2 separate regions of the Homo sapiens genome follow, and region 1 is linked to region 2. The links come from fine-mapping of genetic effects on gene expression. A gene starts in region 2. The other region holds a variant in brackets. All regions are shown on one strand. Distances are from middle to middle. Region 1 holds the start of RNF224 (ring finger protein 224). Region 2 holds the start of TOR4A (torsin family 4 member A).

The links.
Region 1: its variant is fine-mapped to the expression of TOR4A in whole blood (TOPMed, PIP above 0.99).

What each region holds. Positions count from the first base shown.
Region 1 is chr9:137,227,127-137,232,422 of GRCh38, reverse strand. It overlaps RNF224 (ring finger protein 224), which reads right to left and starts at 4,921. Exons shown (of 3, transcript NM_001190228.2): 1 at 4,562-4,921; 2 at 4,082-4,271; 3 at 2,783-3,801. The coding sequence starts at 4,087. The coding sequence ends at 3,337. It overlaps SLC34A3 (solute carrier family 34 member 3), which reads right to left and starts at 1,522. Exons shown (of 13, transcript NM_001177316.2): 1 at 1,485-1,522; 2 at 636-759; 3 at 262-351. The coding sequence starts at 720. RefSeq lists enhancers at 2,225-2,725, 3,993-4,618, 4,813-4,962, 4,752-5,252 and silencers at 4,643-4,712, 4,532-4,826. The variant G/A (reference allele first, on the strand shown) is at 3,123.
Region 2 is chr9:137,274,978-137,280,332 of GRCh38, reverse strand. It overlaps TOR4A (torsin family 4 member A), which reads right to left and starts at 2,607. Exons shown (of 2, transcript NM_017723.3): 1 at 2,426-2,607; 2 at 1-1,680. The coding sequence starts at 1,643. The coding sequence ends at 372. RefSeq lists silencers at 2,047-2,106, 2,387-2,706 and an enhancer at 5,348-5,355.

The DNA of each region.
Region 1 (5,296 bases), 48 kb after region 2:
TTCCTGCCTTTCCAAGCCAGAAGCCCTTGGGACCCTCCCTCGCAGGAGCAGGAGGGGAGGGACGGATGGGCAGAGGTGGCCGGTCTGCCCCAGGACAGCACAGACACCCGGTTGAGGGACACGTGTCTCCCCAGAGGGGGCCTGCATGGCGGAGTTCCCCACACACAGCCTGTTTGGGCAGGCCCCACCCTGCTCTGTCTCCCCAGTCCCGTTGGGGACAGAGGCCTGCCAGCCTGCCACCCCCGGAACCTCCAGACCCACCTTTCCAGGGCTGGCTTGTGTCCTTCAGCTGAGGGAGGGTCCAGGGGTCTGTGTCCCCTTCCTCCAAGACTGGAGCAGAACTGGAGGTCCCTGTGGAGGTAGAATTGAGTACGGCTGTTTCCAGGACCACCTCCCTCCAACTGGGGGCACAAGGGCACAGGCCGGAGGACGGGCTGAGGCGTAAGAGGCCTGGAGTGAGGGACAGAAACGGAACGGGGAAGATGGGGCTCCAGCTGGGCTGGACCTGAGTGGAGGCGTCATGAGCCCTGTGGGTTCCCCGGGAGGCCCGCAGGAAACCTGGCCTGTCTCTGCCCAGTGCCTGGGGGGTGGGTGGTCAGACTGGTGAAGGCCTGGGGCACAGGGGCCACTGGTACCTTCATTCCTCAGAGTCTTTTCCACTAGGTCAACCGCGTCCAGAGTGGGGTGGGGGACCTGGCTGCCGGGAAGGGAACTCGGCATGGATTTCGGGCAGGGACAGACCCAGGCCCAGGTCTAGATCTGCTGGGGGGGACGCGCGTGTCAGAGACATTTCCTCCTGCCCCGGCCCTGTCCTCACAAGCTGGATTCACACCCCTGGGTCCCCTGAATTGAGCCCTTGGCCGCCACCCTCCCTCTCTACGCCCTGCAGGCCTCAGTGACCATCCCCCTTTCTCCATCCACAGGGGGATGGCTACAATGACCTCAGGCAGTTGTCAGGCGAGCCCAGTCCAGTTTCAGGGGTAGACTCGAAGGGGCTCCAGCTCCCCGGCTCCCTTGCTGGTCCTGACTGGAAGGCTAGTGCCGAGGGTGCAGGCCATGAGCTGGGGAACCTGGGGACCTCCCCTATCTGGTGTCATCGGGGACACTGTGGATGGTCCCGACTTAGACTTTGGCATTTGATACTAAACAGTGACGTCTCGGCTTGATAAGGGCCCCACGCCCTGGTGATGGGGAGCAGGTGGGGTCCTCACACCACTTCAAGGCTCCTGGCCCCGAAGCTGCTGCCTTAGCCTCCTGGGCCTGGTCACCCCACCCCTGGGGCCCCCCACCTGGACCCCTCCACCTAGTGCCCTGGGCTCAGGTCCAGGCGTCCTGTGCCTCACCCTCCCTCCTGCTGCCCAAGCCTGGCGTCTCTTGCCCTTGGGTCCTGGAGACTCAGGATGGGGCCCAAGCCCTTGGCCTGGAGGCCACCCAGCCTCGGCCTCACTGTCCCTGGGCCTCAGCCTGGTCCTAGGAGCTCCTACCTGTGTGGGTGGTGAGGGGGCACCTGCAGGGAGGAGACACGGGGCGGGAGCAGTTGCAGGTCAAAGATCCCCTGATCGCGCACATGACCTGCTGGGTACTGAGCCCATTAATGTTTACCCAGGAGCCCAGGCCCTCACGGGGGTACCCTCCTGGCCCCAAGGCCCCTAGGCCTTGTCTCCATCCTGTCACTCTGTGGCTAGGACCTCCAAGCCCCAGCCCAACCCTCCTGGAGTGGGGCTCCTCCCAGGGGTGGGCTCTGAATCAGGCCGAGGGCACTGCGGGGCGGGGCACCGGCCCTCGGTACTGGGCATCCTCAGCAGGCATCCGTGTGACCCAAGAGACACACTCCACCCAGCCAGGCAGGATGCTAGAGTATGGCTGGGGCTGCCCGGGAGTCGAGAGACGCCAGTCCCCCACTTCCATGCACCTCAGGGCTCCCCAGACCTTCTCAGGGTCATCCCTGCCCTCGGCAGAGCAGGGGAGGGAAGCCCTTTGCACCAGGTGGTGGGGGAGGACGGGCTTTTTCACGTAGCCGGGGAGGGCACCCAGCCCGAGGTCAGAGGGTTCAGATCCGGGTTCAGGGCAGGGTTGGGCCCAGCAGGCTGCTAGCGGGCTCGGCCCTGGTATAGCCAGCGACGGCGGCCGGCAGCCTCCATCTGCAGAGGGGAGGACAGAGCTCCCCAGGCCACCTTCCCCACCCGCTGCCTGGCCCAGCGCACAGTTCTCCCCAGCGGAGTCCCAGCTGGCCCCACCGCCTGTGGGGTGTCCCCTAGGAGGACTGGGCCTCTTCCTGCCCTGGGGTGCGGGGCAGCTCCCCCAGAGGCTCACCCTGCCCAGGGGCTGCTGGTGCCCTGCTTTGCTTGCTGCCCAGCCCCCGCTGTGTGCATGGGGACTTTGCCCTGGAGAAGGTAGAAGCTTCTGAGTGTCCGCTCAGCAAATTCTCTTCCGTCTCCCTCCTGCGCCCTTGCTCTGGGGGTGGGGGGCAGCAGTCCTTCCCTGGGGCTCCTGAGTGACAGCTCGTTCCAGTGGGGGTGGGGGTGTTGCAGCACTGACTTGGTGGTAACTGCTGTCCACAGTCTGGCCCCAGCCCCAGCCCCGGCCCCTCAAAAGGGTCTGTGTGGTGGCTGCTCGGAGCCAGGAAAGGTTCAGCGAAGGATGAGACCAACTGGGCTGTGAGACCTCAAGCAGGCCCCAGCCCTCTGTTGGCCTCAGGCAGGCCCCGCCGAGGCATCCCCTTCAATGCCTGTATGGCTTCGTGCCTACACGAGACCCTCCCAGAACCGCACCCGACACACAGTGGGAACTCCATGAGCTTTGTTGAGTGGGTGAATTCACAGGGCTGCCATGCAGGGCAGGGAGGAAGGAGGTAGTCTTGCCACCCTCCCGGTACACCCCGGGGACGTCTGTGGGAGAGGGGAGACCTGCTCTGGGCAGCCCGCCAGGCATAGCCAGACCGGCCCTGCCCCTCCAGCCTGCAGCCCAGGCCCCCGGGACGCCTTCGCATCCTCTTGGGAGCCATCCTTTGCGCTGCGTCTAGGCCCAAGCCAGGCTTGCCGCCCACTCAGACAGCAGTGTCCTCACCAGGCACATCCGGTCGGGCTAGTCTGGGGTCTGGTAATTGTGGCCAGGACAGGTGG[G/A]AGGTCACCAGCCTCCTGCGGAGCCTCCCAGCCCCCAACCTTAGGCTGTGGCCTGGGATGTTCACGGCTGGGATGACACCACCCTGCTGGGCCACACGAAGCTGCGTATAGGATGCTACTGCCAGGTTGTTCTGAGTGGGCTGAACCCATGATGGTGTGTGGTCAGGGGTTCCAAGGCAGGCATTTCCCCTGCAGGGGTGGGAATGGCCAGAGTTCAGACCTCGGGGCTGCCTAGGGGTGGGCAGCAGAGGCTGCCACAGCCCCAGCAGCAGTATCTGGGCTGGGGGAAGTGGGGCTGGGGTCCCAGGGCAGGGCACAGCCCAGCTGGCTGCCGAGTGATGGCGCTGCCTTTGAGGGAGGTGAGGGGCAGGGGTTCTAGTCTTGCCGGCTCCCGCTCAGCCTTGACCGCCAGGAAAGCAGCCAGGTCCAGGTCTAGCATGGCCACCCCTCCGCGAGGCGTGGGCGTGCTCTGACGGCACTGCGGACAGGGGATCCAGCGCTGCTCGGGCGCCGGTGTGTCCAGCCGCCGCACACACGCCTGGCAGAAGGTGTGTCCACAGTAGAGGCGGCGGGGCAGGTGCCCGGAGAGGTCATAGGCCGAGCAGCAGATGATGCAGTCTGTCCTCTCCTCCGGGGGCCCCCCTCCTCCGAGGCCTGGGGGCCCTCCGGCTGCAGCATCCTGCCAGAGGGAAGCCAGCGGTGGACAGCCTGCCTCGAGGACCTTCCGCCTGGATGGGGTGCTGGCCCCAGGAGCCCACCCCAGAGGTCAGGCGCTGGGTCTGTGGGGGTGGTGCGTGCAGACCTGGGAGGGAGCGTGGCACCGGGCACAGGCAGAACCAGGGTCTGCACACTTCTGGTTCATGTGGGCACCAGCCGGGCAGCCTCCTGTTCCCGCAGCACCACCCTGGCCCAGCTCCAGGCCCCCACCCTCCTGGCCGACCTGAGCCCAGGCCTCTTACCTGCATGGGCTCTGCTGGGCAGCTATGCACAGCCACGGGGTGGCCGGAGAAGGGAGTGGGGGACCCAGGGCGCCCTGCGGCTCCCTCCTGGGTTGCATTACTGGCCTTGCACGGGAGTCAGGAGAGAGGCAGGTGGCCAGCTGTGGCGGGCGTGGGCTCCCGTTTCAGCCACAAAGCCTTGAAACTAGATCTAACGGCACCACCCACTTGCAAGAGATAAGGTGCCCCCCGCCCCCTGCCCACCCCCTCCTGTCCAGACCCAGCCAGCTTCTGCTAACACCTTATCCAGGCTGGCCTTGGGGTCCATTTCCCCACTCTTAGGGCTTCTCAGCACGCTCACACCCTTCGCCACACTCAAAACCTCCCTCACCTCTCCCCTCCCCCACCCTCCCCCTCCCCCTCCCCTCCCCTTCCCTCCGCTCCCTCACTCTTACCCTCTCCTTCCCTTAACCTCCCCTCCATACTGGAATGTTTTCCTGCCTTGGCCTCTGCTCACATCTCCTCCTCTAGGAAGCCTGCCAGGGTTCCCTCCTGGCTCAGAGCCTTCTGCAGACTTTGCCACTGTGCTTGTCTGTGGATCTGTGTGGCTTCTCAGCCTCACCTTGATGCCGGCTGGACGGCAGAGGGCTGCACCAGTCCACATGGACTCCAGGTGGCGCACCAGCTCCGTGTCTGGGGATCCCCGCTCCCAGCTCGGGACCCCAGACAGTGCCAGACGCCTCCTTGGTGGGCAGCTCCTGGCTGCTCTGCCCGTCTGCAGCCTCCAGGCCACCCTGGGAGGCCCAGGTTCCGGGAGGTATGATCAGTGTGTCCACACCAGACTGCAGGCAGAGCAGAGTTGAGGGACCAAGAAGGGTTGGGACAGGTGGGCAGGACCCCAGAACCACTCACAGCCCCGCTGGGTGGAAGCAAATGGCCCCTCCTCACCCCTGCCCACCTTCTTGGCAGTCTGCCCCCAGGACTGGTCAGACAAGTTCTCGTGGCTGGCCTGGGTGTGGTCACCCTCTGGTGGGGGCCAGCAACGGGGCAAGGCGGGGAGCCTGGCACGCTAAGTCCTGGCACAGGGTCAGGGCAGTGACCCATCTGTCCCACGCCTGGAGACCTCTGCATGCCACGCGCCTGCCCTGCCCTGCTGTGGAGCTGGTCACCATGCGTCAGGGAAGGGCTGGCATGGCGTGAGGACCCGTCTGTCCTGCGTGGCCAGCTCGGCTGCCA
Region 2 (5,355 bases):
ACCACCCCCAAGAGGCGGGGTCACGTCCCAGCTGTGTGACCCCGGGAATTGTTGGCCCTGAGATCATCCTTGTACCATGGGAACCCACCTCTTGGGGCCACAGGGAGAACGCACCAGACCATGCCTGGGACGCCCAGCAGGGCAATGGGCAAGTTTGGGAGGGAGGTGGCTGCTGTCCTGCCGCCCCCAGGGACAGACTCCGGACTCTGAGGCGGGTGTGGACCTGGAAGCAGAGCTCCAAGCTGATCCGCACCCACCAGCCGGGCAGCCACAAATTCACTAGAAACCTCAGGGGCCTGCACCAGCCCACAAGGTCCCTGGTCGCCCTCCTACTGCCGCCATCAACCCAAACGTCCCGTCCTGCGCCTCCACTACAGGAGGTTCACCGTGGCCACCACCTGCTTGCAGCCGGTGACGGCAAACTCGCGGCCAGCCACGCGGTAGAAGCTGAGCTGCGCGGCCAGGTTCTCCGCGCGGGCCTGGTCAGGAAAGAAGCCCTCACCCGCCATCTCGTCCCGGAAGCAGCTGACCACATCCCGCTTGTCCAGCAGCAGAAACGGCACGATGGCCGCGGCCTGCCACAGCGGATGCTCCCGGGACAGCACAGCCAGCAGGCTGGCGCGCAGGTCTTCTTCCGCCTGCGCCGCTGCGGCCTCGGCACTGCGGAAGCCGTCGGGGCGCAGGGGCAGCGCGCGGGACGCGTTCTGCAGCACGAAGCGCGTGACCTCGGCGCCACCCGCGCCACTGAGGAGCACGTAGATGGCGTTGTGGAAGTGGTGGGAGCGCTGCGGCTGCAGGAAGCCGTGCAGCTCGTCCAGCAGCGGCCGCGGCATGAGCTCCACGTCGTCCAGCACCAAGAGTGGGGTCTTCTCCTCCGCTTCGGCCCGCGCCACCACGTCGGCCACGCGCCGCGCCAGCTCCTCGCGGCAGTCCTGTGCGGCGCGCGCCTCGGGGCAGTGGTGCCGCGCATGGTATTGCAGCACGAGCGCGCTGTCCTCCAGCACCGAGCGGAAGTGGCGCGCCAGCAGGCGGCCCACGTGGCTCTTGCCCACGCCACTGGGCCCGTGCAGCGCCAGGAGGAGCGGACGACTGTGCACATGCGTGGCCAGGTAGTCCCGCATCAGCGCCACGATGCGCGATACGGCAGCGGGCTGGCCGAACACCGCGCGCTGCAGCGCTTTCTCCAGCCCGTCGAGGTCATAGCGCTGCGCGTTATCGTCCAGGTTCTCGATAGCGTTGAGAACTTGGAAGCCCACGATGGCGACTAGCAGCAGAAGGCAGCGCTGCGCGCGGCTCCTGTGCTCCACGCGCGGCCGATACTTGCGCGAGGTCTCCGGGTAAAGCACCAGGCGGCTGCGCCGGCGCTTCTTGCGTGGCGTCCTGGAGGGTAGCTCCGCGGGGCTGTCGAAGGTGAAGAACTTTGGCTGGTCCAGGTCCGCGCGCGGTGCCCGGGGGCTGCAGCCCGGCCTGGGCGCCCCGGTCCCGACGTCGGGCCCCCCACCCGGCTGCAGGAGGCGCCGTTTGCGTAGGACACACACCCGGCGGCGCAGGCGGAGCACAGCGCGCACGGGCGCGATCACGCACCGGCCCGAGGCTCGGGGGGCCGCGGCAGCAGGCTCCAGGCTGGGCTGGCCGCGGTCCATGTCGCAGGAACGGCGCTCCGCATACAGGTCGCCCTCCCTGCAACGGGAAGACGGGGAGGGTCTCTGGACTCCCGCCACTGCCCTTTCCCGCGGGCCGCCGGAACCGGTCCCCGGAGTGATCTTACCCCCTGGGAGTCCCGTGGGGTGCGGCCCGGGCTGCCCCAGGGCCAGGGGCCTGGTCGCGGCCTCGCCCCTCAGACCGGCAAGCGACCCCTCCGCCCCTCCGCCCCTCCGCCCCTCCGCAGGGCCCCGATGCAAATCTCTCGGGTCTTCCCATAAACGGCCGCGGGCCTTGAGGAAGTGGCGGGGTAGAGGCTTATCTGGTGGCCGCCCCGGCTTCCTGGAGGAGTCGTCGAAGGAGTCAGTGGCCGCCCAGGCGCCCACTGGGGTGAACAGTCACCCCCGGACCCTGCCCCCGCCCGCGGCTCCCACTGGACTGGGCCGTCTCCCAAGGAGGGGCCGCGGGAAGCAGAGGCCTGAGCGCCCAGGAGTTCAGAGACGCCCCCACACGCTCCAGAACACTTGGCGGGGGTCTGGCTGGAACTTATGATTTTGAGAATAGGCCCGGGCCCCGTCCCCAGGCTCAACCCAGGCCTCCCAGCCCCGACTCCAAAACTGGGGTCCTCCCAACACCCCTCCAGTGAACGAGCTGAGCAGTGCAGGGAGCCCCCCGGAGACTAGTGGAGGTGAAACGAAAAGATGGACAGAAAGAAGAGGCCGGTCGGAGCAAGAGAGCCACTGACTGGCAGGAACTGGGCCCTGGGCCCCAACCCACCCCCTACCTGCAGCTGGTCCACTGCCCTCAGCTCCGCAGGCCCCTGCCTGTGCCAGACGCTGGGGCCTGAGACTCCAAGCAGGAAATGCGCCTCCCAGGGCGAGGGGGTGGGCCAGGGGCCTCCTGGGCCAGCTTCGGCCTGGAGGGGCAGCGACACCTGTGGGTCCCCAGGGAGCGGCCGGCCGGAGTAGAGGAAGCTCTGGGGAGGTTTCCGCTTCTATGCAAAGGAAGTGAGTCAGGGGGTGCGGCCCAGGCGGGACTTGGGCTGGACGGAGGCGCCAAAGGGGGGAGGCCTGGCCGGCTTGCCCAGATCCCCTGGCCGGAGGTCACATTCCCGCTTCAGTTCTCTAGCGCTCAGAGCCCTCCTGGCTTGGTCAGGCTCAGGACACCTGGTGAGGCCGAGGGCCCCTGCTGCATGCTGTGCCCCCACCCTGGGCTCCTGCACCTCAGCCTGTCCTCCAGGGCCCCCACCTCCCCCAGGTTATCCCTTCCACCTGTCACCCCACACACAGGGCTTACAGCTGGGGGGAGGGGCTCCAGGCCCTGTGTAAGCAAGGCGGGAGCAAGGCAGCAGCACAGGGGGCGGGCAGGGTCCTCTGCCGAGCTGCATACCCCCAATCCCTCTCTTATTACTCCTCTCCCCGCTTTTTCATTCCCCTCCTGACCCCAATCGGGGGCCCCCCAAAGTGGGCTCATTGTCTTTCCTTTCCCCCTTCCTCCGTCCCCAGCCTGGAGCCCCCTGCCCAGGACAGGCCAGCACACACAGACGGAAGTTCTATCACGGAAAAAACCACGTGCGGCTCAGGGTCCCTGTGGGGGTTGGGGAACAAATTTAGAAACAACTTGGGCCGGGAGCCAGGAGCTGGAGCTCTGGGCCCTTCCCCCTGCCGGCCTGCCTAAAGGACCCTGGACTCCTCCTACCCTGGCCCAGCCTGGAAGCCGCCTTCCAAGGAGGGGCAAGGTGGCCGCTCCAGCCACACCAGTGCTGCTGGCATTCAGCTCAGGACCCCGCAGTCCCAGGGACGCCCCACTCCTCCCAACAGCCAGCCCGGGCCTGATGGTTCCAGCTGTATATTCCTCACACACTGCACCCAACCAGACAGGCTCCATCAGGGAAACCGGTCGTGGGTTGGGGGTTTCCATTCTCTCCAGGGTATGGGGTCCACCGGACTATCACGCTCCCCTCCAGGAGCCAGGCCTAGGGCTCCCCTCCCCTGTGCAAGGGGTGCTCGGGGGCCCGGATCCCCAATTGTCGAGGCCGCGGGGGCCGCACACACCAGGTGGAATGCTGGTGCTCTTTGGGCCCACTCCCCGGCCTCTGTGGGACCAGAGCGGAAGGAGGTTGGCTGTCCAGGCCCCGTGGCCCCAGCACGGAGGTTGGGGTCCTTTGGGGGCCTCAGGCTTTGAGTCTCGGTGCTTCTTCTGACACAGAGAGGACCCTGGAGGGGAGGCCCTCGGGCAGATGCAGGCTGACCGAGCCCTGGAAAACCTGCAGCAAAGCCTCTGCCCTGCCTCCAAGTGCACCCAGGGCTGGAGCTGCTTCTGCCAGAGGCTGGCCCAGCAAATCCTCAGGCCAGAGCCCTCTGCAGGAAAGGGACTCGCTCAAGGGGTGCCCCAAGACCTGGCCCTATGGGTCAAAGGTGAATCTGAGGCCTGGGCCAAGGCCTCACCCCCTGCACTTTCTCCCATCTACAGGGGTGAAGGGAGCCCCAGAACCCCAGCTCCCAGGGCCATCACCATCTCCTGTGATACCCAGGGCCACCCCCAATCACACCCATTCCCATTCCAGGAGGCCTCCCCTCCCGCCTCCCTACCCAACCCAGCCCTGCCGCTGCGCCCAGAATTCATGTCCATCACCCACAAACACAGTACATGTTCTCAGCCTCTGAAAGGACTTCACCCTCACTGCTTCCCCCAGCCCTTGCCAGCAAGGTTGTTTTCCCCAAACCGTGGGCAGCCTCCCCACTTCTCCTCCCAAATTCCCCATAGGTTTCACTTCACCAGACGATGCCTCCCGTGCCTGGGCCCTCGGTCCTCCCCTACCAAGTCCTTCTCCCTAACTTCCCAGCAGCGTCCACACCCAGTCGCTCAGGCAGCTCTGCTCTTTCTGCCCCTAAAGGCTTTCGCTACAGTAACCATGCGCCCCCGAGGCTCAGCCGTCCACGCACGGTCCCATCCCAGTCCTTGCAATTCACACCCTCCACCTCACCAGTCCCTCACCCACGGGCTCCTCACTCTCTGTCCTTCACTCCCCACCCGTAGGCCTGGCACCCCCTGCAGGCGCCCTGGACAGGACGCGCCCGCTGCCCAGTGACCAAACCAGGCACCCGGGTCCACTCACTGACCATTCCTCCTACAGTCAAGTCCTCTACTCGTCCTCTCCCCTGCCACTTCCCCCTATCCTGCCTCCTAGCCCAAGACCTGAGAAAATGGGAGGCAGCAGCAGTGGACTCCCAGTGTCTCCTCAGCCGTCACCCCAGCATCTGCGCCCATCAGCCCTCCTCTGAGGACACCCCTGCTGTGCTGAGACCCCGGCCACCTGCTCATTCAGTGACAGCCCAGCCCCTGGACCATCCTCCACTCCTCACCCTACTGGGTCATTCCCATCAGCCCAGAAACATCTATTTCTTCTATCTTTAAAAAAAAACCAGGCCGGGCGCGGTGGCTCACGCCTGTAATCTCAGCACTTTGGGAGGCCGAAGCAGGTGGATCACAAGGTCAGAAGATCGAGACCATCCTGGCTAACACAGTGAAACCCCGTCTCTACTAAAAATACAAAAATTAGCCGGGCGTGGCGGCATGTGCCTGTAGTCCCAGATGCTGGGGTGGGGGGGGCGCTGAGGCAGGAGAATGGTGTGAACCCGGGAGGCGGAGCTTGCAGTGAGCCAAGATTGCGCCATTGCACTCCAGACCGGGCGACAGAGCGAGACTCCATCT